7 linked regions of the Homo sapiens genome follow. The protein of the gene in region 7 purifies or fractionates together with the protein of the main gene of each other region. This does not show direct contact. Each region holds a gene or a part of one and is shown on either strand. Other genes may lie near its edges.

Region 1 (3,789 bases), on a different chromosome or scaffold from region 7:
TCAGGGAGCAGATGCTGATGGAGTTGTCTTGGCCAGGTGATCCTGTGCACCAAGGAGGTGTCGGTGGGCGCACGGAAGAACGCTTTTGCACTGCTCGTGGAGATGGGCCATGCTTTCCTAAGGTTTGGCTCGAACCAGGAAGGTGAGGCCCAGGGGGCTGGGGGTGGACACTCTGCTCATAGACTGGGTGGGGGGAAGCACCCCTCAAAAAAGGTGGGGAGAGCTCTGTGCCCTGGCCCTGGGCAGGCTGCTCCTCTCTGGCCCTCAGCCCCCCTACCTGGTGGGTCCTTCCTGCTTGACCCACGTTGGTCTCTGTCCCCAGAGGCCCTGCAGTGCTACCTCGTCCTGATCTACCCTGGCCTGGTGGGCGCGGTGACCATGGTCAGCTGCAGCATCCTGGCCCTGACCCACCTCCTTTTCGAGTTTAAAGGTAAATGCTTATTTCCTAGAAGGCCTGAGAAGCCCTCAGATTAGGAAGATGCCCAAAAGGTCAGGATAAAGTGGCTCCTGGAACTGGGAAAAGGTGCCTGGAGGAAGTAAGAAAAGCCACACCCAGCCCAGTTTGCCTCCCTGTCTCCCTTCCTGCGGGTCGCTGCCTCCCGCCCTTGCGGCTATGCCAAGGCACCTTCCTCAGGTCTGTCCCCACGTGTGACTGTGCAGTCCAGTGGCCCTGCATCCCATTGTCAGAGTGGTTAGGAGGTGGTTAGGGCTGATGCCTGGATTTTAGTCCTAGTCCTGCCTCTTGGCAACCACATGAGACCTAGAACAGCTTGATTAGCCTCTTAGCACCTCAGTTTCTTATCTCTAAAATGGAAGCAAGAAATAGCACCCACCTCAGGGTGACGAAAGGACCCAAGACCACTCCATGGAGCGTGATTGGAACCATCCCGGGCATACGGAAAGGCTCTCAATGTCAGCTTTTACTGACACTTGAGTGGCTGTTTTCCAGTGGGGAAGGTTTGGGTCTGAGTGGGGTCCTGGGTGTCTTAGACAGTGACCCCCTCACTGCCACAGGTCTGATGGGGACCAGTACAGTGGAGCAGCTGCTGGAGAATGTGTGCCTGCTTCTGGCCTCCCGCACCCGTGACGTGGTCAAGTCTGCACTGGGCTTCATCAAGGTGGCAGTGACTGTCATGGACGTGGCGCACCTGGCCAAACATGTGCAGCTGGTGGTGAGTGTCCCCGTTCCCCTTAGCAGGTAGCAGGGTGGCCTCTGAGCTGTTGGCATGGACCTGGCAAGCTTCGAGGCCAGCAAGTTTCAAACTATTTTTTTTGTAGCCAGAGGTCATTAAGGAGCCCTAAAAGGGACCATAGGGGAATGCCTGTCAGGTGGAGGCGAGGAGGGGGCACACTGCCCAGGTGGCTTTCTTCACCCCAGAGCCCTACATGGAAAGCAACAGGGGCTCTTCAGGGCAAAGGCCCATGGGCAGGGCCACTCCTCATTTTACAGATGGAGAAACTGGGCCAGAGATTTTCCAGATCATGGGACTCAGACGCTGGGCTCTCCCTCCACAGGACCCCCTCATCTTGCCTTTTTTTTTTTCCCATCTTGCATTTTGACCTTGCTGGTTAGAGGCCATTCCTTTGGGTCCCCTGCTGGGCTGCAGAAGGATCTGAAGAGCCCCTTGGTATAGGGTCCCTGGCCCTCTCCTGCCCAAGAGAAGCCTTGCCCAGGCTGGCGTAGGCTTCCAGCCAAGCTGTGCACTGTACCTACTGCCTCAGTTTCCCATGTGTGACTGGCTTGAGTCACATCAGACCTCTGGGTCCCTCTTGCATATTTTCTTTGGGTCTGGCCTTGGGTTCAAGATAGGAAGGGACAGATGAGAATCAGCATGCCCTCCCGCTGCCCTCGGAGCCTGCAGCCTACTAGGGACCAAAGGTGGGGAGAACAGCTAGAGCAGTGATCCATCATGGAGTTATTCGAATTTATACAAGCCCTGGCCGGCTGCAGTGGCTCACACCTGTAACCCCACCACTTTGGGAGGCCAAGGCAGGCAGATCACTTGAGTTCAGGAGTTTGAGACCAGCCTGGCCAACATGGTGAAACCCCATCTCTACTAAAAATACAAAAATTAGCTGGGCGAGGTGGCAGGTGCCTGCAATCCCAGCTACTCGGGAGGCTGAGGCAGGAGAATCACTTGAACCTGGGAGGCGGATGTTGCAGTGAGCCAAGATTGCACCACTACACTCCAGCCTGGGTAACAGAGCAAGACTCTGTCTCAAAAAAAAGGGATTTATAGAAGCCCTTCCAAGAGTGGTTGGGGAGGCCAGGAGCGGTGGCTCACACCTATATTCCTAGCACTTTGGGATGCCAAGGTGGGTGGATCACTTGAGGTCAGGAATTCGAGACCAGCCTGGCCAACATGGTGAAGCCCCATCTCTACTAAAAAATACAAAAATTAGCCAGGCATGGTGGTGCGCGCCTGTAGTCCCAGCTGTTCATGTGGCTGAGGTGTGAGAATTGCTTGAACCTGGGAGGCGGAGGTTGCAGTGATCCGAGACCATGCCATTGCACTCCAGCCAGGGTGACAGAGCAAGACTCTGTCTCAAAAAAAAAAAAAAAAAAGCCAGGCACAGTGGCTCACACCTGTAATCCCAGTACTTTGGGAGGCCAAGGTGGGCGGATCGCCTGAGGTTGGGAGTTCAAGACCAGCCTGGCCAGTATGGTAAAACCCTGTCTGTACTAAAAATACAAAAATTAGCCAGGCGTGATAGCAGGCACCTGTAATCCCAGCTATTCAGGAAGCTGAGGCAGGAGAATTGCTTGAACCCAGGAGGTGGAGGTTGCAGTGAGCTGAGATCGTGCCATTGCACTCCAGCCTGGGCAACAGAGCGAGACTCCATCTCAAAAAAAAGGAGTAGACGTGGACCCTATCCCCTAGCCGGTTTGGGAGTCACTGGAGATAAGAAGATCTGCCACCTGCACATGTAACCCAAACTGGGCCAGATGAAGGCTTAAGAGGAATCCAGCCAGAGCAGAATGCAGTGAGATGGAAGGGACATAGGGGACCAAGAGAAATCTTGGGGTGCTAGGGGCAAAGCGGGAGCCGCAGCATTAGATGAGTCTGGGCTGAACTCCCACCTCTATGGCCATTTAGCAAACACTTTATCCTCTGTGCCGCCGTGTCCTCTTCTATAAATAGGGGGTGATAGCATGTATCTCAGGGGTAGTCCAAGGATTCAAGGAGAGGATATATGTCAAGTACCAAGTGCTGTTGAGAAGACTAAAGCTCTCATCCTGCGAGGGTGCTCAGGCCTGTGTCCTGAAGGAGGGTGCAGGGGAAAGATGGGGCCTGCCCACCCGAGGGAAGCATGACTGGGCCAGGGTGTGGGCCAGGAGCAGGGCCGCGCTAACCCTCCCCTCAGCTGGGCTTGATCATGCTGCGTCCCTGGGCTGGACAGCAGTAAAGGGGGCGCAGCATGGAAGGCTCGCCTCCCTGAAAGCCTGGTGCTCTGTCCGGCAGATGGAAGCCATTGGGAAGCTTTCAGATGACATGCGGCGGCACTTCCGCATGAAGCTTCGGAACCTGTTCACCAAGTTCATCCGCAAGTTTGGGTCTGTGCACTGAGCAGGGGCGGGGGTAGGGCAAGCGAGGGGCCGAGGATTTCCAGTCCTACCAGGGACACTACATCTGGGTCGTGCTGTCTGGCCAGTGCCTCTCACCAGCCCTTCCTTGCCACCTCCAGATTTGAGCTGGTGAAAAGGCTGTTGCCCGAGGAGTACCACAGAGTCCTGGTCAACATCCGGAAAGCTGAGGCCCGGGCCAAGAGGCACCGAGCCCTGAGCCA
Region 2 (4,341 bases), on a different chromosome or scaffold from region 7:
GTGATTGCATCACTGCACTCCCGCCGGGGCAATGGAAGGAGACTCAGTCTCAAAAAAAAAAAAAGCCCTGTCCAGCCTTTCTTGGTGATGTGATGCTTTTCCAAATGGACTTGAAAGTCAGTGTGTCCACCATGCGACTGCAGGTTAGTTTAGGAGGAACTCACGTCTTTGTGTGGTGTTGAGCCTCTCCATCCAGGAACACAGCGTTCCACACAAATTCTCCCAGCGTTCCACGCACATGGACCCTGCTCAGCGCCCGGCCCCTGGGGCTGCTATTGTCGAGGGCCTGCCCTCTCCCAGGAGCTCCAACGTGATTGGTCTGCGGAGAGGCTCCCTGGTGGTTGACGGCCCACCCAGCCGACCTCCCGAGGTCGCTGTGAGCCCCCAGCCTGGCCCTCCCCACGAGGTGCTGGCCTTGGGTGGCAGCCTTGCTTCCTTGTTTCAGGGGCAGCATCACTGTCCGTTATCTACTGCTGCAGAACAGATCGCCCCAAAGCTCAGGGGCTTAAAACAACACAGATGTTTATTTTATTTATTTATTTGTTTTGAGATGGAGTCTTGCTCTGTTGCCCAGGCTGGAGTGCAGTGGCGCAATCTTGGCGCACTGCAACCTCCACTTCCTTGGTTCAAGCAATGCTTCTGCCTCAGCCTCCCGAGTAACTGGGACTACAGGCGCCCGCCCCCACCCCTGGCTAATGGGACGTTTATTTTAAACATAGACATCTAACAGCTGGGCGTGGTCTAGGTGGGAGGGTTAGGCCTGGGGTCTCCCTGAGATGGCAGTAAGGCTGGGGCTGGGACTCGAGCTGCAAGTGGGCTGGAGGCCTCAGCTCCTCTATGGGGCCTCCCCACAGGGCTGCTGAGGGCCCAGAGCCAGTCCAGAGAGCCAAGAGCCAGGCGTGCTGACTCTGGGACCCGGCGGCCACTTAGCCATTCCTGCCATATCCTGGTTGGTGACAGAAGGGACTTGGGGTCCCAGCAGCACCAGGGCCACGGGCAGGTCCTGCCTGTCAGGGGACCCAGGCTTCCAGGTCAGCTGTGCCTGGATTTCTCCAGGGGCTGATGGTGGAGTCACCAGACCATCCTGCCGTCCAGGGCCGGGCAGGGTCTCACCCCTTCCGCCTGGCACATCATCGGGGCGTCTCTGGTGTGTGAAGGGCTGGACGGGGCGTGGGGCCCTGGAGGGGTGCGGGAAAGGACCCCCACCCCCAGCCGCCTCCGCCTTCGACGGCGCTGGCCCTTCAGGGAGGGGCGTCCTCTGCTCGCTGGCGCTTCCCGAGGTTCCCTCGCAGCGGGGGCCGAGCTGTCGCTGGAGGCGGGGCAGGGCGGGGCGGGGCGGGGGGCGGTGAGGTAATTTCCGCGATCAGCGTCAGTGCCCGGGCCAGAATCGAAACTGAGAGCTCCTGGGCAGGCTCGGCAGGGCAGGCAGCTCCAGGAGGGTGAGCGCGGGGGTCCCAGGGCGGAGGGGCGGGGGCGCGGGGGTCCAGGGGCGGCTCCAGGAGGGTGAGCGCGGGGGTCCCAGGGTGGCGGGGCCGGGGGCGGAGGGGGGGGTCCGGGAGGGTGAGTGCAGCCGGGGGCGCGGAGTCCCGGGAGCCACAGACCCAGCCCGGGGCAGTGCAGCCCGTCCAGGACCAGCACCCTCCGCAGCAAGACCCAGCGCTGTGGTCTCTGCACCCACTGGAGCGCAGGATTTTGGGGTCTCGGCTCCCGTCCTTTCTGGATGGCAGACTCGGATGTTTTCTCAGAGGGGTCCGCGGGGAGTGCCGGGTTCTCATACTGAAGTCTGCCTCCAGTCTGTTGCTTTTAAACTTACTCTTCTTGTAGCATCCCAGCTGCGGTGGGGACCCGGGGACCCATCTCTTCCTGGCACCCTGAGCTCTGGTGGGCACTGTACCCTCCTCTCCGTGAGGCCCCTCCCCAGGTGCAGATGTGGAGTCCTCTTTTCCTGGGGGCCAGTGGTCATTCAATAGAAAAGGAGGTGCTGTGTCCTTAGAAGAGTCAGGAGCCTGAGGCCCTGGGGTGCACAGGACCCCTGGCTGGGGCAGAGGGGTGCGGCCTCCTGGGGGCGGCACTGTGCCAAGGGCTCTGCCCCCTCCAGGGCTCCACAAGCAGTCACCTTGGCTCCTTCTAGGTGGGGCCTGAGACCCTTCAGGAGGGAGGGTCTGGCTGTGTCCGGGTCAGTGAGCCCTGTACTCCCTGACAGGACACAGCTACTGCCAAGGCCTCCACTTGGGCGTCAGGGTGGGGAGAGTCCCAACTCCTTGCTTGGTGGAGAGGCCTCTGCTTGGGCATCAGGATAGGCAGATCCCCAGCTCCTTGCCTGGTGGAGAGGCCGTGCTTCTGAGCTGGGCCTGGACCAGATGTCCTCTGGCCTCAGTCTCACCTGCTCCTTCTGTCGCAGGCTTCGAACCGTGGCCAACAGTTCCAGTGGACTGCGTGGACCCGTGAGCTCAGGAGCCTCAGACGCCTCCCTGGAGAGCCAAGCTGGTGTTCGAGGTGGCGCCTCCAGGGTCCACCCTGCTGCCCAACAGCCCCGCGGCCACCAGAGGGCCGTCCCTGGCCCGGCTGTGTGCCCTGGTGGACCTGTGTCTGGGCTGCTCCCGCTGCACCCAGCGGCTCAATGAAAGCACCTACGTCCTCCGTAGGGTGGAGCATGACTGCTCCCGCGAGATCCTGCTGGCCCGCTTTAAGCAGGCCACCAAGAGCAAGGTCTGGCGCGTGGTGGGCTGCCGGCCCACCTTCCCAAGGCCCCTGTGCTACCAAGTCTGCCACTACTACAGCCCTGGGCTCGGCTGCCGGCGCCACCGAAACCGGTGCACCTTTGCCCGCAGTCGCGAGGAGGCCCTGGTCTGGACCTTCGAGCGTCAGCACAACCTCCAGCGCCTATGGCTGAAGGCGGAGGTGCAGGGCAGCGGGGCCCAGGGAGGGGCAGGCCGGGCGGCCGACGCCATCCTTACGGAGTTTGGCGGCCGCTTCGAGCTGCTTTGCTCCCTCTGCTTCAGGCGCTGTCCCCCATGCATCTGTCGCGTGGACCCCCAGGGGCAGTGCCCTGAGCACGGAGCCTGCCCCTCCCTCCTGGCCCACGTGAGCGCCGAGGGCCGCCGCAAGCAACAGTTTGTGGTGGTGAGGCCGCGGCCCCGGGCCGGCCAGCCTCCTGCCTACTGCAGGTTTGTGGGGCGTGGGCAGCCGTGCTGGCGTGGGGAGTCCCGCTGCCAGTTTGCACACAGCGCCGTGGAGATGGCTGTGTGGGAGGCCGAGCAGCTGGGTGGCCTCCAGCGGGGGGACCTGCTCACACCCCCTGCCCCTGATGGCGACGGGCGCACGGCCCCCCTTGGCCAGCCCCCTGGGGCCCAGCTGTACTGCCCGGCCTGCTTGGTCACCTGCCACTCTCAGGAGGCCTTCGAGAACCACTGCGCATCCTCGGAGCACGCACAGATGGTGGCCTTCGACCAGGCCCTGCCCTGGGAGCACCGTTCCCCACCCCCGGGACTCTCCAAGTTCGAGCTCTGCCCAAAGTAAGGATACTCGAGGCAGGAGCTTGGAGTAGGGCAGGAGCCCACCATAGGCAGAACCAGAGGTTCCCAGGAGCTTGGAGTGGGGCAGGAGCCCACCACAGGCAGAGCCAGAGGCTCCCAGGAGCTTGGAGTAGGGCAGGAGCCCACCGTAGGCAGAGCCAGAGGCTCCCAGGAGCTTGGAGTAGCGCAGGAGCCCACCACAGGCAGAGCCAGAGGCTCCCAGGAGCTTGGAGCAGGGCAGGAGCCCACCGTAGGCAGAGCCAGAGGTTCCCAGGAGCTTGGAGTGGGGCAGGAGCCCACCGTAGGCAGAGCCAGAGGCTCCCAGGAGCTTGGAGCGGGGCAGGAGCCCACCACAGGCAGAGCCAGAGGCTCCCAGGAGCTTGGAGCGGGGCAGGAGCCCACCGTAGGCAGAGCCAGAGGTTCCCAGGAGCTTGGAGCGGGGCAGGAGCCCACTGTAGGCAGAGCCAGAGACTCCCAGGAGCTTGGAGCGGGGCAGGAGCCCACCACAGGCAGAGCCAGAGGCTCCCAGGAGCTTGGAGCAGGGCAGGAGCCCACCGTAGGCAGAGCCAGAGGTTCCCAGGAGCTTGGAGCAGGGCAGGAGCCCACCACAGGCAGAGCCAGAGGCTCCCAGGAGCTTGGAGCAGGGCAGGAGCCCACCGTAGGCAGAGCCAGAGGTTCCCAGGAGCTTGGAGCGGGGCAGGAGCCCACCGTAGGCAGAGCCAGAGGTTCCCAGGAGCTTGGAGCGGGGCAGGAGCCCACCACAGGCAGAGCCAGAGGCTCCCAGGAGCTTGGAGCGGGGCAGGAGCCCACCACAGGCAGAGCCAGA
Region 3 (3,789 bases), on a different chromosome or scaffold from region 7:
GCCTCCGGGAGAGCCACCTGTAGATAGCTGCAGTCCCACGTGTGAAGGGCTGTGACGGAACAGGCTGGGCACAGGTGGAGTCAAGGAAGGGGTGGGCATCTCGGCTTTGGGGAAGTGTGGGGCGGGGCCTGACCCACGCCTTCCCCTCTCGCTTGGCCCGGCACCTCTGCCCCACTGTACCCACTCTCCACCCCTCCCCGTGTAGCCACACCCTCGGCCTGGATTGCCCTTCTCCGTGGCGAGTGAATTGACTCCTGCGTCCTACAGGCCTTTGCTGACGTCTGCCCCTCAGGCCTCTCCCGCCCTCCACCGTCACCCCCGACTGACTCTCCTGTCTCCCTCCTGCCCCTCCACTTTCCTTTCTCGTGTTCTGTCTGGTCCATTTGCTCCTCTGGGTGCTGTGCACTGCCTGTCTCCCCGACAGGGGCAGGGACTTCAGTCTGTTCCCGGATGTGGCCTGAGCGCCTCATCAGCCCCATGTGTGCCTAGTAGGCCCCAGGAAGTCTGTGGCCAGCAGGCCTCTCAGGCAGGATCAGGCACTTGGCTCTCACCGCGCCCCCTGCCAAAGCTTTTCCCCTCCCCTGAGGTGTCCCTGCCCACGCTGAAACCCTCAGTGTCTGGCACAACCCAGAAACATAAAAATCGGTGTGCGTCTGTTAGAGGGTGAACTTCCACAGGCTCGGTGCCGCAGAGCCTGCTGGGAGCCCAGTAATGTTCAGGCCATCTCTGTCCTGTCGCACTTGGAATTCAGGTTCCACTCTGGTGCACCCTTTCAGAGCGCTTGGGAAGAACTCGGAACTGCTCGTGGTGTCTGCTAGAGAGGATGTGGCCACGTGGCAGCAGAGCAGCCTCTCCCTCCGCTGGGCGAGTAGACTGAGGGCCCCAACTTCGACAGAGGCCAATCACATCCGGTATGTGAGGGGACCCCGCTTTGGGGCCTGTGCCCTACAGCGTCCCCAGAGGCAGGAGAAGCCACTCGTGCTTTCTGATGTGCTGTTCTTAGTGAACTTGCCGCCCGGCCGTTTGGTTTGATGGAGGCCGAAAGCCTTTCTGAGGCATGTTGGCTTGCTGTCCCTTTTTCTTTTCATTTTCAAAATACATTTGCTTGATTTCACAAATCATAATTTGGAACCAAAAATGGAGCCGCCCCATCCCAGCTGGCGCTGCGGTTCCCACAGCCTCCCCTCCTGCGTTAGGCCTGACCCTGAGCCTGCCTTGCCCGTGGTTGCATGGGCCCAACCCTGGCCGGCCAAGGTGGCCACACTGGAGTTTTCAGCCTAGTGGAAGTGGGGAAGTTCATTTTTGCCACGTTATTGGTTTTGTCAGTGACAAACAGAACAAGTTGGACCTCCTCTTGCCTCCTGCCCTCACAGACTGTCCTGCCTGGCTGTGGGCCTGGCCCTGCTGAAGCGCTGCGTGCTCATGTACGGGTCCCTGCCATCCTTCCACGCCATCATGGGGCCTCTCCAAGCCCTCCTCACGGATCACCTGGCGGACTGCAGCCACCCGCAGGAGCTCCAGGTGAGGCTTCCCGGCCACTAGGGTGCTCTGCCTGGGCTCAGACATGTCCCTGAGCTGGGGCCAAGCTGGTGGCAGTCAGTCATTTGATGCTGCAGCTGTAAGTCAACACCATCTTTGCAAAATCACAAATATGAAGGGAAGTAAAATCATAAGAGTGGGCAGTGACGGTGAGCAGTGCTGGGCTGGAGTAAAGCAGATGCTGCATCTCAGGCGGCAGCTGGGAACTGTCGCCTTGTGTGCTTCCTCCAAGAGGCCGCACGGAGGGTGCACCAGCGCCCAGGGGTCAGCCCCTGCCAGGCCTGGACAGTCAGCTCTGAGCCGCGCTCTGCAGTCCCGATGGGTTTTCCAAGGATGGTCTCACTATCCTGCACAAGGTGACAGGAAGCCCCAAGGGACAGTCTCAGCTGGACCCAAGAACAAGTCTTTGATGGCACATCCTGTCCTCTACAGGCTGCTCCAAATTCACCTATGGCCTACCCGCCTCCCTGCCTTTCACCCTGACCCTGACAGGCTGTACCCTGCATCCACTTCCTGCTTGACATGGCTGTGGCTTGTGCCTTTCATCCTGCCCCAACCCTGCCCCTTATTGGCCCGCACCAGCCCAGGATGCTGCTGGAGCCGAAGGCATCAGTGCCATCTCCGCAGCTACCCCCACAGGACCGTCCCGCACCACCAGCACAGCCCTGGCAGCCTTGCCTCGTGCCTTCCCCTCATGCGCTCCGGCCTCCTCGCAGGCCTGGCTTCGTCTCTGGAGTAGTTCTCTGCACCTAGAACTCCCCACAGCCATGCTGCTCGCGCCCACACCCTTGGGAAGCCAGGCCTTCCCTGGCCCACACTGTGCCGTGCTCCCTGCGTTTTGTCTGTGGTGCTGACCCCCGGGCACGTTACACCGTCCTTGTCTCTGCCCCACTAGGATGAGAGTTCCATGAGGACAGCAACTCGGCTCGTTCCGGCCAGGTCCCTGGAGCATAGAGCAGATAAGCTAGCTATCACAGACTCCGTCGCCTGGTCAAAGGCTGATGAGGATGAGATGTGAGCCCTGCCCCTTATCCTGTATCCACTTCCTGCTGGTGTGGCTGTGGCTTGTGCCTTTTATTTAAAAGAATTTGGGTTGGCCTGGCCGAGGGGCACAGCAGGTCTCATGGTCTCGGTAGACTGGGCCAGTCAGGCCCTTGAGTTTGGTCTCCATGGAGACGAGGCATTCCGGCACTCGAAGGTTACATCCACATGGGCCCAGGAGTGGCTGTATCTGTGGGTGCAGCCAGGGTTCCAGGACACACCTGTGCAGGAGAAAGCGGGTAGGACCAACCTCAGTGAACTACCTTTCGGGAGATTCCTCAGAAGCCACCAGCCAACTCTTCTGGAAGCCAAGGTCTTGGTGAAAATGGGTCTTAACCATCTGGTTCTGTTGGCTTGAAAATAAGGTCAAACTGCCAAGACTGGTGGAAACCCTGCCCCGCCTAGCACCCAGCGTCAGTTTGCACACTGGGCTCTAGCATGCACACGGCCCCCCGCGGCAGAAAGGGGTTCTCCTGTGAGCCTTCTCACGAAGCAAGTGGCTCACGGCCTTTCGTGCCAAGTTTGTCTGGGAAAGAGGGGTTCTGTTGACGTTTCTGGCTGTGAGGAGCACAGGCTATGGTGACCTCCAACTCCCCAAGTCCCCTCCTTTCAGAGAGTGCTCTCAGGGGCCAGCCCACGGCCCTCCCTCTTCAAGAAGACAGTGGCTTTACTTCGTTCCGGCTGTGCCAGGACTTGAGCAGCCACAGCCTTGGCTTACCCCCCCGCCCACCGGTAGGCGCACAGCAAGGGCACCATCCTGCTGCAGGGAGCTCGCAGCACTGTCCTCACGCTGCCTTGACACCACAGAACCCGTGCGTGGAGCTCAGGGCACGCAGCAGGTGAGTCATCGCAGAGTCGGGGATTTCGTGTTTTTCAGGAGCTGTGTCAGAGCACACTGACCGAAATGGAAAGCCAGAAGCAGCTCTGCCGGCCGCTGACCTGTGAGAAGAGCAAGCCTGTCCCACTGAAGCTTTTCACACCCCGGCTGGTCAAAGTGTGGGTGCTGGCAGCATCTCCCTGGGAGGCCAGGGCTGTGGGCTCAGTGGGAGCTGACGGGGGGCGTCTGCCAGTTCTGCAGTTGAGCAGATGACTACGGAGTGAAGCCACACTCCCAAGCAGGCTCTGGCTGAGAGGTGGGGACAGACTCTTGCTTCCTTAACAGTGGCTTTCTGGTTGTAGCCTCGAGTTTGGAAGAAAACAAGGCAGTAG
Region 4 (3,610 bases), on a different chromosome or scaffold from region 7:
TGCCCATTTTTTTTTTTTTTCTTTTTGAGACAGAGTCTTGCTCTTGTCGCCCGGGCTGGAGTACAGTGGCGCAGTCTCTGCTTACTGCAACCTCCGCTTCCAGGGTTCAGGTGATTCTCCTGCCTCAGCCTCCAAAGTAGCTGGGATTACAGGTGCCTGCTGGCTGATTTTTGTATTTTTAGTAGAGACAAGGTTTCACCATGTTGGCCAGGCTGGTCTTGAGCTCTTGACCTCAGGTGATCCACCTGCCTCGGCCTCCCAAAGGGCTGGGATTACAGGGGTGAGCCACCATGCCCGGCCCATTTGTCCACTTAATTTTTTTTTTTTTTTTTTTTTGGCTGTTGAGCTCCTTGTGTATTCTAGATATTAATCCTTTGTCAAGTGAATATTTTGCAAATATTTTCTCCCATCCTGTGGGTTGTCTCTTCATTCTATTGTTTCCTTTGTTGTACAGAAGCTTTTTTGTGTAATAGAATTCCATTTGCCTATTTTTGCTTTTCTTGCCTGTGTTTTTGAGATTTTATTCATAAAATCTTTGCCTAGACCAATGTCCTGAAGCATTTCCCCTGTGTTTTCTTGTAGTAGTTTCAGGTCTTACATTTAGGTCTTTAATCCATTTTGATATTTATATATGGTGACAGATAAGGATCTAGTTTCATTCTTCTGCATATGGTTATTCTTACAGTTATCCTATTTTTCCAGTACCATTTATTGAAGAGTGCTTTTTTCCCCAGTATATGCTCTTGGTGCCTTTGTGAAAAGTCAGTTGGCTGTAAATGTGTGAATTTATATCTGGGTTCTCTATTCTGTTCCATTGATCTATGTGTCTATTTTTATGCTAGTACCATGCTGTTTAGATATTATAGCTTTGTAGTATATTTCGAGGCCAAGTAGTGGTGATGCCTCCAGCTTTGTTCTGTTTGCTCAGGATTGCTTTGGCTATTGGGGGTCTTTTGTGGTTCCATATTAATTTTAGAATTTTTTTTTGACATTTCTGTGAACAGGATCATTGGTATTTTGATAGGGATTGCATTGACTCTAGATTACTTTGGGTAGTATGGTCATTTTAATATTTATTTTTCTTATTGGTGGATATTTACATTAATTTTGCCTTTGTTGCTGCTATAGGCAGTGTTAAAGTGGTATTTAATAAATAATTTTTATCAGAAATTTCTAATAGCCACATCTGTTGTACACTTTTCATTTGTCTTTTTTATTTTTTTGCAACAAAGTCTTGCTCTGTCACCCAGGCTGGAGTGCAGTGGTGCTCACTATAGCCTTGACTTCCTGGGCTCAGGCAGTCCTCCTACCTCAGCCTCCCAAGTAGTTGGGACTGCAGGCGTGTGCCACCATGCCTGGCTTATTTATTTTTAATTTTAATTTTTGTGGAGATGAAGTCTCACTGTATTGCCTGGGCTGGTCTTGAATTCCTGGGCTCAAGTGATCCTTCCACCTTGGCCTCCCAAAGCGTTGGGATTACAGACGTGAGCTACCCATGCTCAGCCTGTCATCTTTCTTGATTCCCATGAATATCTGCTGTGTTTGGCTTTTTCTTTCTTGATATTCTTTGGAGGCTGGGAAGATACCGCTCTGTGGTATTCTCTCCTCCCTTTCTCCCTTCGAAGTCCTAACCAGGCCTGACCCTGTTACAGCTTCTGAGGTCAGATGAGATAGGGTGCATTCAGGGTGGCTTAGCTGTAGACTCTCGTTTTCTTTTTTTTCCTTTTTTCGAGACAGGGTCTTGCTCTTTTGCCCAGGATGGAGTGCAGTGGTGTGATCACAGCTCATTGCACCCTTGGCCTCCTGGGCCCAAGTGATCCTCCCACCTTAGCCTCCTGAGTAACGGAGACAAACTTTATCTATTTTTCGTAGAGACAGGGTCTCACTGTATTGTCTAGGCTGGTCTTGGACTCCTGGGCTTAAGCAGTCCTCCTGCCTCAACCTCCCAAATTGCTGGGATTACAGGCAGGAGCCACTGTGCCCAGCTTCTCCTTCCTTTTGCTAGATCTCTCTCTTGAAATGTGGTCCTTGACTTTTATTCCTAGGTAGGTGATCTCTCTTTCACTTTAAACTTTTTTTTTTCTTGCTGACATCCAACTGTTTAGCTCCAGCCTCTTTTTGAGCACCTTAGACACAAATGTATTTTGGGGTCAGGTACAACCCAGAAAATTCACCTCTCCTTCAGTCCCTCCTGCTGTGTTCCTTACACATATAGCATAGCCGTAAAGTTAGACCCGGATTCCAAATCTGCCTCTGCTACTTACTAGCTGTGGACCCCAATGGACAAGTTTATTACAAGAAAATTTAATCCTTTCATCTGTAAGTGGAATTAACAGTCTCCATGTCATGGGGGCTTCGTAAAGGTTCATTGAGCCACTATGTATCTCACTGTGTACCTGGCACAGTGCTCGGCACTTAGTCACTGGCAGCTGTTGTAACTGCCACCTACATGACTAGAACCTTTCCGTAGCATATTGTCAAATCTACATTTTAAGTCTCTACAATCTGGTCCTGCCTTTATGTCCTCAGAACCCTTTCCTGTGACTTCATGCTCTGTTGATACTGTCACCCAGGCTGGAGTGCAGTGGCACAATCACAGCTCACTGCAGCCTTGACACACTGGGCTTAAGGGATCCTCCTGCCTCAGCCTCCCAAGTAGCTGAGACCACATGTGTGTACCACCATGCCTGGATGATTTTTTTTATTTTCTGTAGAGACATAGTCTTGCTAGGTTGCCCAGGCTGGTCTCAAACTCCTGGGCTCAAGTGATCCTCCCACCTTGGCCTCCGAATGTTAGGATTACAGGCGTGAGCCAGCACAGCTGGCCTTCTGTTGACTCTGTAAGTTCTTTGGTGGTTTTGCCCCTAGTTTTATCCCATCTGGTATCTGGTTTACAGCAGCTATTTCAAACACCTCAGTTAATTGTGGTGAGAATTTTGTAAGATTCGGCAGGGTAGGGAGGATGGGGACAGGTTCTTGGGGTGCATGAATGAGTCCTGCTTTCTCAGCCTGCTGGCGGTTTTCCTTAATCTCTCTCTTGCTTTGATCTCTCACTTCTTCCACATTCCTGGGCACCCACCCACATCCCTTACCCCAGACACTTGCTTCCTACCTAGATGCTACCTTGGTAGGGAGGTGCAGCCTTGTCGCTGAAATGGAGGTAATGTGGGCCTGGGATTTGTGTCTTTTTCAGAACAGTGCAACCCTGAAACTCGTCCTGTTGAGAAAAAAATAAGATCAGCTCTTCCTACCAAAACCGTAAAGCCTGTGGAAAACAAAGGTGGGTTGGTTGACTTCAAACAAATCTACAAGGGACTTCACATAGAATAAGTCGAAGGAAAAGGGGAGAGTGGGGCTGGTCAGGGAATCCAGAACAATAGCTTCATTGGGAAGGAACAGCTTCCTTAGCCTTGAGCATCAGGAGTGGGGCCATGTCATCATGGGTGATATTGAGGCAACAGCCTGAAAGCAGTATTCAGGAGAAGAAAAATGGGCAGAAGACAGAGATGAGAAAGGCCATGGCTGTGGTTTGGGGGTTTGCGGTGGGCCCTGCTGGCAGGAGCCTTCTCTAGCCCATAGCTGCTGGTCTCCCTCCATGAATCTGGCTGGG
Region 5 (3,789 bases), on a different chromosome or scaffold from region 7:
TGCTTTGATGTGCACCTACACAACATCTCGTGCATCAAAGAGCAGTATTGTCTCCAGCAGGTCCCACCTCCAGCCCTGAGGCGGTTTTCGCCTATCTCAGTAAATAGAACACACAATCTGGTTTTACACCCAAGACATTCCATTCCCAGGGACGAGCAGGAGACAGATGCCTTCCTCTTATCTCAACTGCAAAGAGGCCTTCCTCTTTCACTAACCCTCCTCAGCACAGACCCTTTATGGGCGTCGGGCTGGGGGACAGGCTGGGAGACAGTCAGGTCTTTCCCTTCCCACGAGGCCATATCTCAGGCTATCACATGGGGAGAAACCTTGGACAATACCTGGCTTTCCTGGGCAGAGGTCCCTGCGGCCTTCCGCAGTGTATTGTGTCCCTGGGTACTCGAGATTGGAGAATGGCGATGACTTTTATCAAGCCTACTGCCTTCAAGCACTTTTTTAACAAAGCACACCCTGCACAGCCCTAAATCCATTAAACCTTGAGTCAACACAGCTCATGTCTCTGCAAGCACAGGGTTGGGGCTAGGGTTACAGTTTAACAGCATCTCAAGGCAGAAGAATTTCTCTTAGTACAGAACAAAATGGAGTTTCTTGTGTCTACTTCTTTCTACATAGACACAGTAACAGTCTGATCTCTCTTTCTTTTTCCTACAGTCCTTTTTTTTTGGAGACAGAGTCTCGCTCTGTCGCCCAGGCTGGAGTGCAGTGGTGCGACCTCGGCTCACTGGAACCTCCGCCTCCTGGGCTCGAGCAGTTCTCATACCTCAGCCTCCCGAGTAGCTGGGACTACAGGCGCACATGCCACCATGCCTGGCTCATTTTGTTTGTATTTTTAGTAGAGACAGCATTTCACCATGTTGGCCAGGCTGGTCTCTTGACCTCAAGTGGTCCACCCGCCTTGGCCTCCCAAAGTGCTAGAATTACAGGCGTGAGCCACCGCACCCAGCCCATTACATCTATTTTAAAAAACTATTATTTTTGGCCAGGTGCGGTGGCTCACACCTGTAATCCCACCATTTTGGGAGCCCAAAGTGGGCGGATCACGAGGTCAAGAGATTGAGACCATCCTGGCCAACATGGTGAAACCCTGTCTCTACTAAAAATACAAAATTTAGCTGGGCGTGGTGGCACGTACCTGTAGTCCCAGCTACTCAGGAGGCTGAGGCAAGGGAATCACTTGAACCCAGGAAGTGGAGGGAGGTCGTAGTGAGCCGAGATCACGCCACTGCACTCTAGCCTGGCGACAGAGTAAGACTCCATCTCAAAAAAAAAGAAAAAAAACTAATATTTTTATTGTTTTTATTTATTTTATTTTATTTATTTATTTTTTTGAGACGGGAGTTTTGGCTCTGTCACCCTGGCTGGAGTGCAGTGGTGCGACCTCGGCTCAATGCAACCTCCACCTCCCAGGTTCAAGCAATTCTCCTGCCTCAGCCTCCCGAGTAGCTGGGATTAAAGGCGCCCACCACCATGCCTGGCTAATTTTTTTGTGTTTTTTGTAGAAGACGGGGTTTCGCCATGTTGGCCAGGCTGGTCTCGAACTCCTGACCTCAGGTGATCTGCCCACCTCAGCCTTCCAAAGTGCTGGGATTATAGGCGTGAGCCACGGCACCCAGCCTTGTTACTGTTTTTGGTGACTCACCTGCAGTGTGTCTCCCTTCTTGAGTGTAAGCTCAGTAAGGATAGGCTGTGCCCGCTCTGCTAACCCCAGGGCTGCTGCTGGGCAGGTAGTGAGTTGTCAGTGCACCTCTGTGGAGTGCAGCAATACACGCAGAGCTTACATCATCCTCAAAGTAGGGACTGCCCTCTTTGCTTTTCAGATAAGGAAACTGAGGCACAGAGAGATGAAGGGACATGTCCAAGGCCACCCCACTTGAATGCACCGGGGCTGGGATTTGAGCCCCAGATGGCCTGACTCTAGCAGGGTTCTTTCTGCCGCTGAGCTGCCTATCGCCTGCCTTTGTCCAGATGGCCCTTCTCTGGCCAATAGCGAGTGCTAGGCTTCACCACGGATTGTCAACCCTGAGCACATGCCTTAGTCCCCTGGAGGCTCAGTAAGCTGAGTGTCACTCAGCTCCGGGGCTTGTGACTTACCAGATCAGGTGGCCCTGAGAATGTGCATTGTGCCACTGGTTCGGGGCCACCCCTAGAGCACTGCAGTGCATCCTCCCACTTGCCACAGGCATGCCTGGTTTCAAGGTGATGGTGTCATCCCCATTTTCGCGAGGAAGTGCTAACTTGCCCGGGAGCCCTCAGGTAGTAAGCACTACAGGCCCTTTCCCCTTGACGGGGTGGCCTGAAGGTGGGGACATCAGGAAGACCTTGCTGCCAGGACCCCAGGCCTGGAGTGGGCTGACAAGTGCCCAGGGCAGGGTAGCTCCTGTTTGGTACATCTGGGTGTGTGGGCTCAGTTTTCAGAGTCCCTTCAATGTGTCTGAGTTTGGAGAGCTGGGCTCTGATGTGTCCATGGCTCTGCCTTAGAGCCTGGCCTGGTGGATGCAGTGACGGGGTCCTCTCCAGCCTCAGCCTCCTCTGGGGCAGCTGCTCACCTGTGCGTCCAGCTGATCCCGGGCCACCACTGAGCTTCTTCCATCTCCACAGATGAAAAAGCGGGACCTGGAGCCCTCGGACGCCACCTACACGGCCCTGTTCAACGTCTGTGCCGAGTCCCCCTGGAAGGACTCAGCTCTACAGAGCGCCCTGAAGCTCCGGCAGCAGCTGCAGGCCAAAAACTTCGAGCTCAACTTGAAAACATACCACGCGCTGCTGAAGATGGCTGCCAAGTGCGCAGACCTTAGGATGTGCCTCGATGTGTTCAAGGTGGGGCTTCCCCTGCCGTCCTGCTCCCCTTCATGGGGCTGGTCCCACGTGTCAGGGGCAGGGCTGTGGTGTCTGTCTCTCCTCATGTAGGAAGGCTTAGGGAGGATGAGACAGCCGGTATTGGGCCCTGGGGTTCACAGATGGATCTGATGAGACCTTACTGGAGATTGTGTATGCCACCGTGTGCTGTGTCCTGCTTTGTGCACTCGAGGGAAGGCTTCCTAGAGACAGGGTCTTGCTATGTTGCCCAGGCTGGTCACAAAACTCCTGGCCTCAAGTGATCATCCTGCCTTGGCCTCCCAATGTGCCAGGATTACAGACATGAGCTACCATGCCCAGCCTGCTGCAGGTTCTCAGTGGGACGTCTTTGTTCCCTCCCCCAGGAAATCATCCACAAAGGGCACGTGGTCACAGAGGAGACCTTCAGTTTCCTGCTCATGGGCTGCATCCAAGACAAGAAGACAGGCTTCCGGTACGCCCTCCAGGTATGTCCCTCCCACCCCACCTTCCTGCCCTGCTTCCCCGGTGCCAGAGGTGCAAAATGGTGATCCTGTGAGCACCCACGATGGCCCTGTGCTGAGTATTTTTATATCTGTGCTCTTTTCTGAAAACCCAGCAGCCACTGTAGCCTCCATTCTACAGATGGCAGGGAGAGGAGGCCCTTGGAGATGGAATGAGGGTGGCCCCCGCCCCTCCCACCCTGCTTTGCAGTCGGCTTAGCCCCTCTAAACTCACCTTCCTTGAAAGCCTGCCACACACTCACCTGGGGACTTGTTCAACCCTCCCACACCCCCATTAGCACTTCTGCAGGTGCAACCCAGGAGTCATTCATTCATTCATTCATTCATTTATTTTGAGATGGAGTCTCACTCTTGCCCAGGCTGGAGTGAGCGATCTTGGCTCACTGCAACCTCCGCCTCCCAGGTTCACGCGATACTCCTGCCTCAGCCTCCC
Region 6 (3,789 bases), on a different chromosome or scaffold from region 7:
AGTCTCTTAGGCAGAATCTAAGATGGGCAGCAGGCCTTCTGGAAAACACACGGCAATGACAGATACCTCGAGAATCAACCTGTGGGTGCGAGGGCCTGGGGTACACCCAACACCACCCTACAAGAAGCCAACTAACCCTGGACGCTGAGGCAAATGGCTTTTTGTGAAAGAATGTCAACTACCACGAATGCAGGGCATGAATGCAAACGGCAAGGGCATGGTCCAAAAGGGCAGTGGGTCTTCGCCAGGACACACAGCCTTCCCAGAGCTGCGCTGTGCCAGGTGTTCTGTGTGGCTAGGCCCAAACATGGAGTGGGAGGACTCAGGAAATAGTGCCGGTAAGAGCCAGCACCACTGGGGGAGGATGCCAACAGCATGCTGGCCCGCTTCTCCTCCCTCCTGGCATGCCCACATGCTGCTCAGTTTAAAAACAAACAAGCACTACAGCATGTGCCCAGCACAGCCCAGTTGGCTCTAGGCACACCCCTGAATATGTGCAGGGCCAGGACTAGGGAGGGACATACTGGCCCAGCTGTCACTCAGTAGAGAGGCCTTCTACTTTTTTTTTTTTAGACAGAGTCTTGCACTGTCGCCCAGGCTGGAGTGCAGTGGCACGATCTCAGCTCACTGCAAGCTCTGCCTCGCTTGTTCACGCCATTCTCCTGCCTCAGCCTCCCGAGTAGCTGAGACTACAGGTGCCCGCCACCACACCCGGCTAATTTTTTGTATTTTTAGTAGAGAGAGGGTTTCACCGTGTTAGCCAGGATGGTCTCGATCTCCTGACCTCGTGATCTGCCCACTTCAGCCTCCCAAAGTGCTGGGATTACAGGCATGAGACACCACGCCCGGCCGAGGCCTTCTACTTTTAAGTCTCACATTTTGCTCTATTTGAGTCTTTTCCAATGAGCATGTAATTTTAAAAATCAAAGTAGATGATTACATAAATAAAATAAACATGCCCCACCCACATCCCCCACTTGTCACCACTGCTCAGCCCCTCCCTAACCAAGCAGCGAGGCAGACACAGCAGGCAGCACGTATCTTTGACACCCAAGCAAGCACGTTACCAGCTTTATTCTTCGCAAGTTTTTTGCTGCTTGCAGTTCCAGATCCGTAAGTCACACCATCAATGGTCACCGAGGCACCAAAAGGCTCACTTGGGTTCTCTTAAAATTAAAATTACTTGTTTTAAAACATACGAGTCAAGACATCAAAAGCGTGTGCACAGTCTGCCCACACCGACAGACAAGGCGCAGTCAGGGGCTGTCCCTGCAGAGAGTGGGCCTGTGCTTGACTGCAGAGACCTGGGGCTCCCTGGGACTGGAGACGGGCAGCAGACAAGCAGCAGCAAAGGGCACAGCTGGGAAAGTGGAGGGAAATGAGGCACGTGGGAGATGGTGAGCCAGAGGGGCAGCAGGAGGCTGGGGGCAGAGCCTCCTACGACAGGGACCAAGGTCTACGAAAGACGGACACAGGACTGCCGGAATGGGAAAGCACAAGATGTGGCTTGCCAAAGAAACACCACCTCAAAGGATGAGTGACCCCCAGGCTCCAGCTTCCAAGGGGAAGACAGACTGGTCTTCACAAAGGTGTGATGAGGGCACCCAAGGAAGACAGAGCTGGTGGGAAATGCATGCCCAAGAACCCTTCAGACACCCAGGGGCACCAGGAGACCAGGGAAAGGACCCAGTGCACAGTGGGGAGGCCTTGCTCGCAATAAGGCTGTCCATGACAACGCAGGATCAGAAACCAGCAAGGCAGATGGGGCAGGACAAGAGGAAGGTGGGGAGAGGGGACAGACTGGAAGGGAAAAGCAGAGCCACCCACTCAGATGGGGCGCGGCTCCAGGAAACAAGCCACCCATCTGCAGCACGCTGCTCTCTACCCTTCCCTTTCCTCCCGTTCCAGTAGAGTAGGGCTAGCGGTCAGCGCCTGCCTCCCCAGCCCTGACCAAAGTTACACCTTGTGATTCTTTAGGACTGAAATGGGGAAGGTTAGACTTACCACATTCAAAGAAATTATAGACAGGGCGGACCTTGAGGACACGCTGCATGTACTCGTGCAGGATGCAGACCTCGGATTTCCCGTTGGGGTTAATAACAAACTCTGTGACAAAAAGAACCATCTCAGCAAGTGTGAAGCAGTGCCACAAGCTAGCACACAGCTTCCTGTTACCATGTCAGTAACTAGGGGCTCACGACCGTGAATGTGGCAGACCCCTGCATTCATGGGATAAACATAAACTTTGAACGAAATGCAACTCATAAAACATGCCCTCAACACATCACATTAGAAATAACAGCATAACCAGTCTGCTGATGTTAAAATGCAGAGGCTTATACCTTTCTTTGTGGGTGCATCTTGCACTGATAAAGTAATGAGCTTCTGATTGGCTGGCAAGATGGGCCTCTCGGACTCCGCCTGCTTCCGCTTCATTTCCCGATTGAATTGCCGCCGCTCAGCCCAAGTCCTGAATTTTTTCACAGTAACTTGCTCAAAGTCAAAACGCTTCTCCAGGTAGCTTCGAAATTCCTCGAGATCTGTCCCAGATTTACCAGAGAAACAAATTACTTAACTTCCAACATAGGAGTCAGGTTCTCACAGCCCAGTGCATGGGGCAGGCCCAGGCCACATGACACTATTTCCTTTCCCCGTCCCTTTCAAAGGGGAGGGAAGCAAAGAATGAAGGCCTCCCTACACCAGCTCAGATTATTCTGGCAGGTCCCTTCTGGATGAATTTCTGAGATGTTCTTTTACTTTATTTGGGGCAGGAAGAATACAAAAATGAAAAGGAAAAAAGACAGCTTAAAAAAGTCAGATGGCCTTCGGGACTTCCTCCCTGTATCAAAACAGGTGCCCGAATGCCAGCAGCACCCGGGCTCCATGCGCCCGCCACCTCTCTGACCACCTCACTCTTTTCCTTCTGGCCATCCTGGCCACCTCTGTAGTCAGCAACACACCCAGGCAGCTCCCTGCACAGGGCCTCGCATTTGTCACATTTCCTCCCGGGCCACTTCCCCATCCTCAGCAACAGCCCCCATCACAGGCTCTTCTAGGGCACCCCACACTCCACGGAGTTATGAGACAGGCTGGGTAGTGATGTACAGACAAATAGAAACCTAGAAAATGGAAAGTGCTCTTTGAAAGTAATCCAGCAGGTGGGTTCACAGAGACCTGCCACACCTGAAGAGAGAACTAAGACTTAAATGGCGGGACTAGGCTAAAAGACATGGAAGAGAGAATGGGAAACACCAGTACACATCCAGCAAGCAATTGCAGGATTGAAGAGGGAACTATCCACAGAATGGTGACAGTTTCCCAACACTGAGTCATGGATTAAAGAGGCTCACTGAGCTCATCAAGACAAATCAAAACAATGCCACATGAGCACATCCTACTGAAAAAGCAAGACTTAGGGAAAGATCATACAAACAACCAGAGAGAAAACGGCCCACTGCCAGTGCCAGCAGCCATCTCCCCAGCAGCCTCAGCCATGCAGACACCACAGAGCCCACAGACAGGAGCCTAGGGTGCTGCACCCAGGCAGGTTCTTGCAAGGACAGGAAGACAAGCCTTTCAGCCACACCAACAGTGGAGGTGCACAGCCCCTTGCTCACAAGTACAACTAGGAACTATGAACAATTATGGCCTTCATTAGAAAAACAAAGCTCATGGGTCCCAGGAGGCAAGAAGGGAAGAGTCCTTCAAAAACTCACCAACGGATTCATCTTTGCACACCTCGACTTTGGCCTTCACCTGCCCCAGGGCCCCAGGGGCTGCCTCAGCCCC
Region 7 (4,348 bases):
AGCTCCTGTGCCCTTGGAGCTCTCCCTTCAAGGGCACCTACTAAGGCAGCAGCCTCCAGGAGAGGCTGATGATGGAAGAGAAGGGAGTCAGGTAGGAGGCAGGAGAGGAGGATGTGTTTCCAGAGTCAGAAAAGCAGGGACATGGGCTTGGCCACAGGTTGGTCCTTAGTTCACCCCACCTGAGCTCCCACTCACCAGAGTTGAGCCTCCCGTAGGTGTTCCTGGCCAGGGTCATGTCCTTTCCACTGGGAACCCAGGGCTCCTCGCCACGCTCAAGTTGAATGACCACACGAGGTCGGGAGGTAGAGAGTCCTGTGAGGAGGAGCAGGTGAGAGCCCAGCCCCAGGTCAAGACAACCCACCTCCCAACAGAGAGCAGGAGTCAGGGCTTCATGGAAATAGACAGTAATCTGTGCAACTGGGAGAATCTAAAGATAGCACAGGGCAAGGGGCTCATAGGAATAGCTCATGTGTCCCCAGAGCAGCAACTGTGCCCAGAGCACCAAAGCAACGGGACTGAGCCCAGGCATGAGAGAGGCCACAGCTGGACAGGGCGGCAAGGAGTGGCTGACCCAACCAAACTTTGTGTCTACAGGACCAGACCCTTGTTCCACGTGGCCCTGGCCAGATTTGATCCTGCTCATCAACCAGGAGGGAAGTGAAGAGGCAGTCCTGATTGTCACCAAGTGCACTTTTCATGGAGCACCCAGGGCCTTACCAAGTGAGGTCACAAGTGTGAAGTTTTCCAGCATCACGTGGCGGTACAGGGCCCTCTGCGCTGTGTCCAGGAGCCCCCACTCCTCCTGGGAGAAGTACACGGCCACATCCTCGAAGGTCATCAGGTCCTAAAACAGCAGGGAGGTGGAGGTAGGCATGGTCTAAGGTATGGCTGTGAGCCAGGACCAAGCTCCCCATCCCAACAGTCACCTCCCCCAGTGTCCCTCCTTCCTTGGGTTCCACCCCGAGATTATCTTCAGGTGGCACTTCCCTCACCTGTCTGGGACCCCTCCCCTCTGCCCTCCTGGTCCAGGCCCCAGATGGCTTCTTGACTTCCCCACTGGCCACCCCTACACAAGCAGGCTAGAGCAAGCCCTGGCTGGGCCCTTAGCTGCCACACCAAGGGCAGCCCCAAATATCCACTCGTGACTCAGCATGACCATTCATGACCCTCCCCAGATGTGCCCTTCTTGCTTTTGTAATAAGCAAGGGTGTAAGTCCCAGCTGTGGACCCCCCAGGCATGCCCATCACTGAGACCTTCCCCTGCTGCGCTTGCCTGACATTTCCAGGCTGCTCATCCAGCCTGAGGGACTGGATGATCCCCACCAGTCGTCATAGGGGTGCAGCCCCAAGAACCTGTGAACACAGGGGAACTCAATCCCTTCCTCCCTCCACATGGCGCCCCCTCCTCAATTTATTTATTTATTTATTTATTTATTTATTTATTTATTTATTTATTTTTATTTTGGAGACGGAGTCTCACTCCGTCACCCAGGCTGGAGTGCAGTGGGGCAATCTCGGCTCACTGCAAGCTCCGGCTCCCGGGTTCACGCCATTCTCCTGCCTCAGCCTCCCGCCACCACACCTGGCTAATTTTTTTGGATTTTTAGTAGAGACCGGGTTTCACTGTGTGAGCCAGGATGGTCTCGATCTCAGCGCTCCCGCAATTTCTTTCCCACATTGCTGCCACCCTCTCCTATTCAGCCACCTGCCGAACTCCTCCCCTGATAGCCTCAGGCACCCCAGCCGGTTTTCTTTACCCTCAAGCTGTAACTCCGCACGCCTGACTGCTCATCGCCTTCTTCAGTCCAGTTTATAGGCCCTGTCCTCAGCCCAGGACACCAACAACGTCAGGTCCAGTGACATGACCAACCTGGGACATCCCAGACTCTTGATCTTTCCCCTGAAGGAAACCTGCTTTCCTTTCAATTCTCCTTTCTATCTACAGCAGCTCTCTTCTTCCAGGCGCTCAGGCTGAACAACATGGGGTACTTAGTTCTTCAAACAGCCCACACCTGATGCATCCGCAGATCCACCAGAATTCACCTGGTCGCCCACCTCCACTGCTGCCCAGACTGTGGCAGTCGGTTCTTCCCTTCATGCCGACACCCCTGCATGTCTGTTCTCCACGCAACAAACGGTGGAACCGTTTTAAAGTCCCAACTCAGAGGATGTCCTGATTCTGTTCAAAACTTCTATGTCTCCCGACGCCCTCGAGATAAAGCCCACTCCCTCGCCTGCTACTGCAGCCGCACACATCCCCTCTACTCCAGCTCCACATCGAGAGCGCTCAGTCCCAGAAGCATCTGGGCTTCGGCTCCCCTCCCAGGTTTTGCACACGCAGGACTCTCCCCTCGGAGCCTCCTTCGGGACCTCAGCCCCCTGGCTGCCGGAAGTCGGGAGCTCACCAGTGCCCTGGACGCAGGAGTTTGCACTGACCCCCGCAACCCCCCCAGGGCAGGGAGAGGAAAGACGACTAGGCGAGGTCTAGGAAGCGGCCTCACTCCGTGGGGGCGCAGTCTGTGTGAGCAGGGACTCCCCCGCCCCCCCGGCGCGGGCTTGTCAGCGCCACCGCCGCCAGCGGAACCCGCAACTGGGAGGGAAGAAAGGCATGGACCACCCGGGACCGCCATCCCCGCCAGCAGCCTCCCGCGGCTGCCCCGCGCCTCAGCCTGCCCGGCAGTCATGGGCGCAGAATGCCCAATGCGCTGCCTCCTGGGCTTCCGCGGGGCGGGAGAACGCGTGGTTCCCGCCGGGGCCCGACCGCCCCCGGGCCGACCACGTCATACTCGAAGATACCGAGGCTTGGGGGCGCGGCCGGCTGCTCGTGGTCCGTACCTTCCTGGCCGCCCGCCTCGGGCCCCGACCCGCGCGCCACAGCCCAGACCACCGGTGTGGCCTGACGCGAGCAGCCAAGTGACAGTCCCAACGCCGGAAGTCCAGCCCCCAGAGCTCACATTGCCCCAATACGCGCGCAGACGCTTGCGCACAGCCTTCTGGGTTATGTGGTTCCTGCCTGTTTTTCGGCGCGGAGGCGGGGCCATTACCAGTCTCCATGGCAACGGCTAAGCGCCGCCGCGCTGGGCGCCTGGAAATGGAGTAGCGCAGCTGCCGCGGGTTTCCAAGGGCTCCGTGGCACTGGTTGAGTCGCCCGGCAGGTTGTCCCGCGTTGGGGATTCCCAGTTCCTGGCACCCACCTAAGCAGCCCTGGAGACTAAACCCTGCAGGTGTGAAAGCAGAAACTGCGGAGGTTCCAGAAGGCAACACCAGCAGGTAGCAGGGAGGAGAAAACGCACCGGGTAGGGCAGGTGTAGGTGGAGGAGCAGATGCCTGGAGCTCCGGGTTCCCTTCCCAGCTTTGCATCTCACTGACTGTGCATCCTGGGCGAGGGTTTGATCTCTCTGTGTGTCAGTGTCCCGTAAAGGTTTAAGGTCCGTTTTTCAACCTCTACACCAAGAATTCTCAGCCTGTAATGACACTACCCGCTTGTCATTTGTCTTGATTCTGTGATTGTTCTTGGACGCTCGCCCAAAACTTGTTTTCCTTGTAACTTGGACGAGCAGAAGGTAATTCCCCAGCCTTGCTTGTCCTTAGACCATCTAGTTCTTGCTTTGCCCCACACATCACAACATGGATGCTTTGTTCCTTTTTTCTCTGGACCAATCTAAGTGTCTTTGACACATAACAACAAAAGGCAGGGCAGTCTCAATGTAGACTGACCATGTTGTTGGCAGAGAATAAACGATTCTCTCTTTGTTGCTTCCCTGTGAGGGTCTTGTTTTTAGGATCCTTAGACAGTTCTCAGATGTCAAGTACGTTAATTCATTTTGTCTTCCTCTATACCCACCTCCATCTATAAATATCTGTCTACTGTCAGCTATAACTGTCCACAGAATTGATTCTACTTGTAGATCCCTATAGTGTAAGATAGCTCGACAATTTTTGAATGTTTTTATTTAAATTTTTCCTGCTTTGAAAGAATTTAAGAACACTTAAGTACTATTGTGATTTAATCAAATGCTTAGAGGCATTATTAACATTTCAAGCAATTTTTTTTTACTTTTTTTTTTTTTTTTTTGAGACAGGGTCTCACTCTCTTACCCAGGATGGAGTGCAGTGGTGCATACTCGGGTCACTGCAACCTCCGCCTCCCATGCTCAAACAGTCCTCCAACTTCAGCCTCCCAAGTAGCTGGAACTACAGGCAGGAGCCACGATGCCTGGTGTATTAGTCTGTTTTCACGTTGCTGATAAAGACATATCTGAGACTGGGTAATTTATAAAGAAAAAGAGGTTTAGTGGACTCATAGTTCCACGTGGCTGGAGAGGCCTCACAATCATGACAGAAGGTG

What was found.
Region 1: the proteins of ZNF324B (region 7) and RRP12 purify together in Homo sapiens (affinity purification with mass spectrometry; 2 studies listed by BioGRID and IntAct, with this or other methods). This does not show direct contact.
Region 2: the proteins of ZNF324B (region 7) and HELZ2 purify together in Homo sapiens (affinity purification with mass spectrometry; 2 studies listed by BioGRID and IntAct, with this or other methods). This does not show direct contact.
Region 3: the proteins of ZNF324B (region 7) and NOP14 purify together in Homo sapiens (affinity purification with mass spectrometry; 2 studies listed by BioGRID and IntAct, with this or other methods). This does not show direct contact.
Region 4: the proteins of ZNF324B (region 7) and ZNHIT3 purify together in Homo sapiens (affinity purification with mass spectrometry; 2 studies listed by BioGRID and IntAct, with this or other methods). This does not show direct contact.
Region 5: the proteins of ZNF324B (region 7) and PTCD1 purify together in Homo sapiens (affinity purification with mass spectrometry; 2 studies listed by BioGRID and IntAct, with this or other methods). This does not show direct contact.
Region 6: the proteins of ZNF324B (region 7) and DGCR8 purify together in Homo sapiens (affinity purification with mass spectrometry; 2 studies listed by BioGRID and IntAct, with this or other methods). This does not show direct contact.

The regions. Positions count from the first base shown.
Region 1 is NC_000010.11:97,366,808-97,370,596, reverse strand, and holds part of RRP12 (RRP12-like protein), read left to right. Parts: intron 1-36; coding exon 37-142; intron 143-322; coding exon 323-430; intron 431-1,014; coding exon 1,015-1,172; intron 1,173-3,464; coding exon 3,465-3,556; intron 3,557-3,687; coding exon 3,688-3,789.
Region 2 is NC_000020.11:63,571,282-63,575,622, reverse strand, and holds the start of HELZ2 (3'-5' exoribonuclease HELZ2), read left to right. Parts: upstream 1-1,383; 5' UTR 1,384-1,439; intron 1,440-2,401; 5' UTR 2,402-3,237; coding exon 3,238-3,515; intron 3,516-4,341. UniProt on the Homo sapiens protein: Can degrade highly structured RNAs through its concerted ATP-dependent RNA helicase and 3' to 5' exoribonuclease activities. Shows a strong preference for pyrimidine over purine residues for its nuclease activity.
Region 3 is NC_000004.12:2,939,314-2,943,102, reverse strand, and holds part of NOP14 (nucleolar protein 14), read left to right. Parts: intron 1-751; coding exon 752-911; intron 912-1,373; coding exon 1,374-1,521; intron 1,522-3,457; coding exon 3,458-3,576; intron 3,577-3,759; coding exon 3,760-3,789. UniProt on the Homo sapiens protein: Involved in nucleolar processing of pre-18S ribosomal RNA. Has a role in the nuclear export of 40S pre-ribosomal subunit to the cytoplasm.
Region 4 is NC_000017.11:36,489,620-36,493,229, forward strand, and holds part of ZNHIT3 (zinc finger HIT domain-containing protein 3), read left to right. Parts: intron 1-3,193; coding exon 3,194-3,280; intron 3,281-3,610.
Region 5 is NC_000007.14:99,428,634-99,432,422, reverse strand, and holds part of PTCD1 (pentatricopeptide repeat-containing protein 1, mitochondrial), read left to right. Parts: intron 1-2,616; coding exon 2,617-2,835; intron 2,836-3,218; coding exon 3,219-3,320; intron 3,321-3,789. Other genes in the region: ATP5MF-PTCD1 (ATP5J2-PTCD1 fusion protein), read left to right, coding at 2,617-2,835, 3,219-3,320. UniProt on the Homo sapiens protein: Mitochondrial protein implicated in negative regulation of leucine tRNA levels, as well as negative regulation of mitochondria-encoded proteins and COX activity. Also affects the 3'-processing of mitochondrial tRNAs.
Region 6 is NC_000022.11:20,090,186-20,093,974, reverse strand, and holds part of DGCR8 (microprocessor complex subunit DGCR8), read right to left. Parts: coding exon 3,717-3,789; intron 2,541-3,716; coding exon 2,343-2,540; intron 2,107-2,342; coding exon 2,005-2,106; intron 1,167-2,004; coding exon 1,068-1,166; intron 1-1,067.
Region 7 is NC_000019.10:58,450,192-58,454,539, reverse strand, and holds the start of ZNF324B (zinc finger protein 324B), read right to left. Parts: upstream 2,919-4,348; 5' UTR 2,836-2,918; exon of another isoform or gene 2,787-2,835; intron 2,745-2,786; exon of another isoform or gene 1,758-2,744; intron 1,354-1,757; exon of another isoform or gene 1,274-1,353; intron 845-1,273; coding exon of another isoform or gene 839-844; coding exon 718-838; intron 313-717; coding exon 196-312; intron 1-195. UniProt on the Homo sapiens protein: May be involved in transcriptional regulation.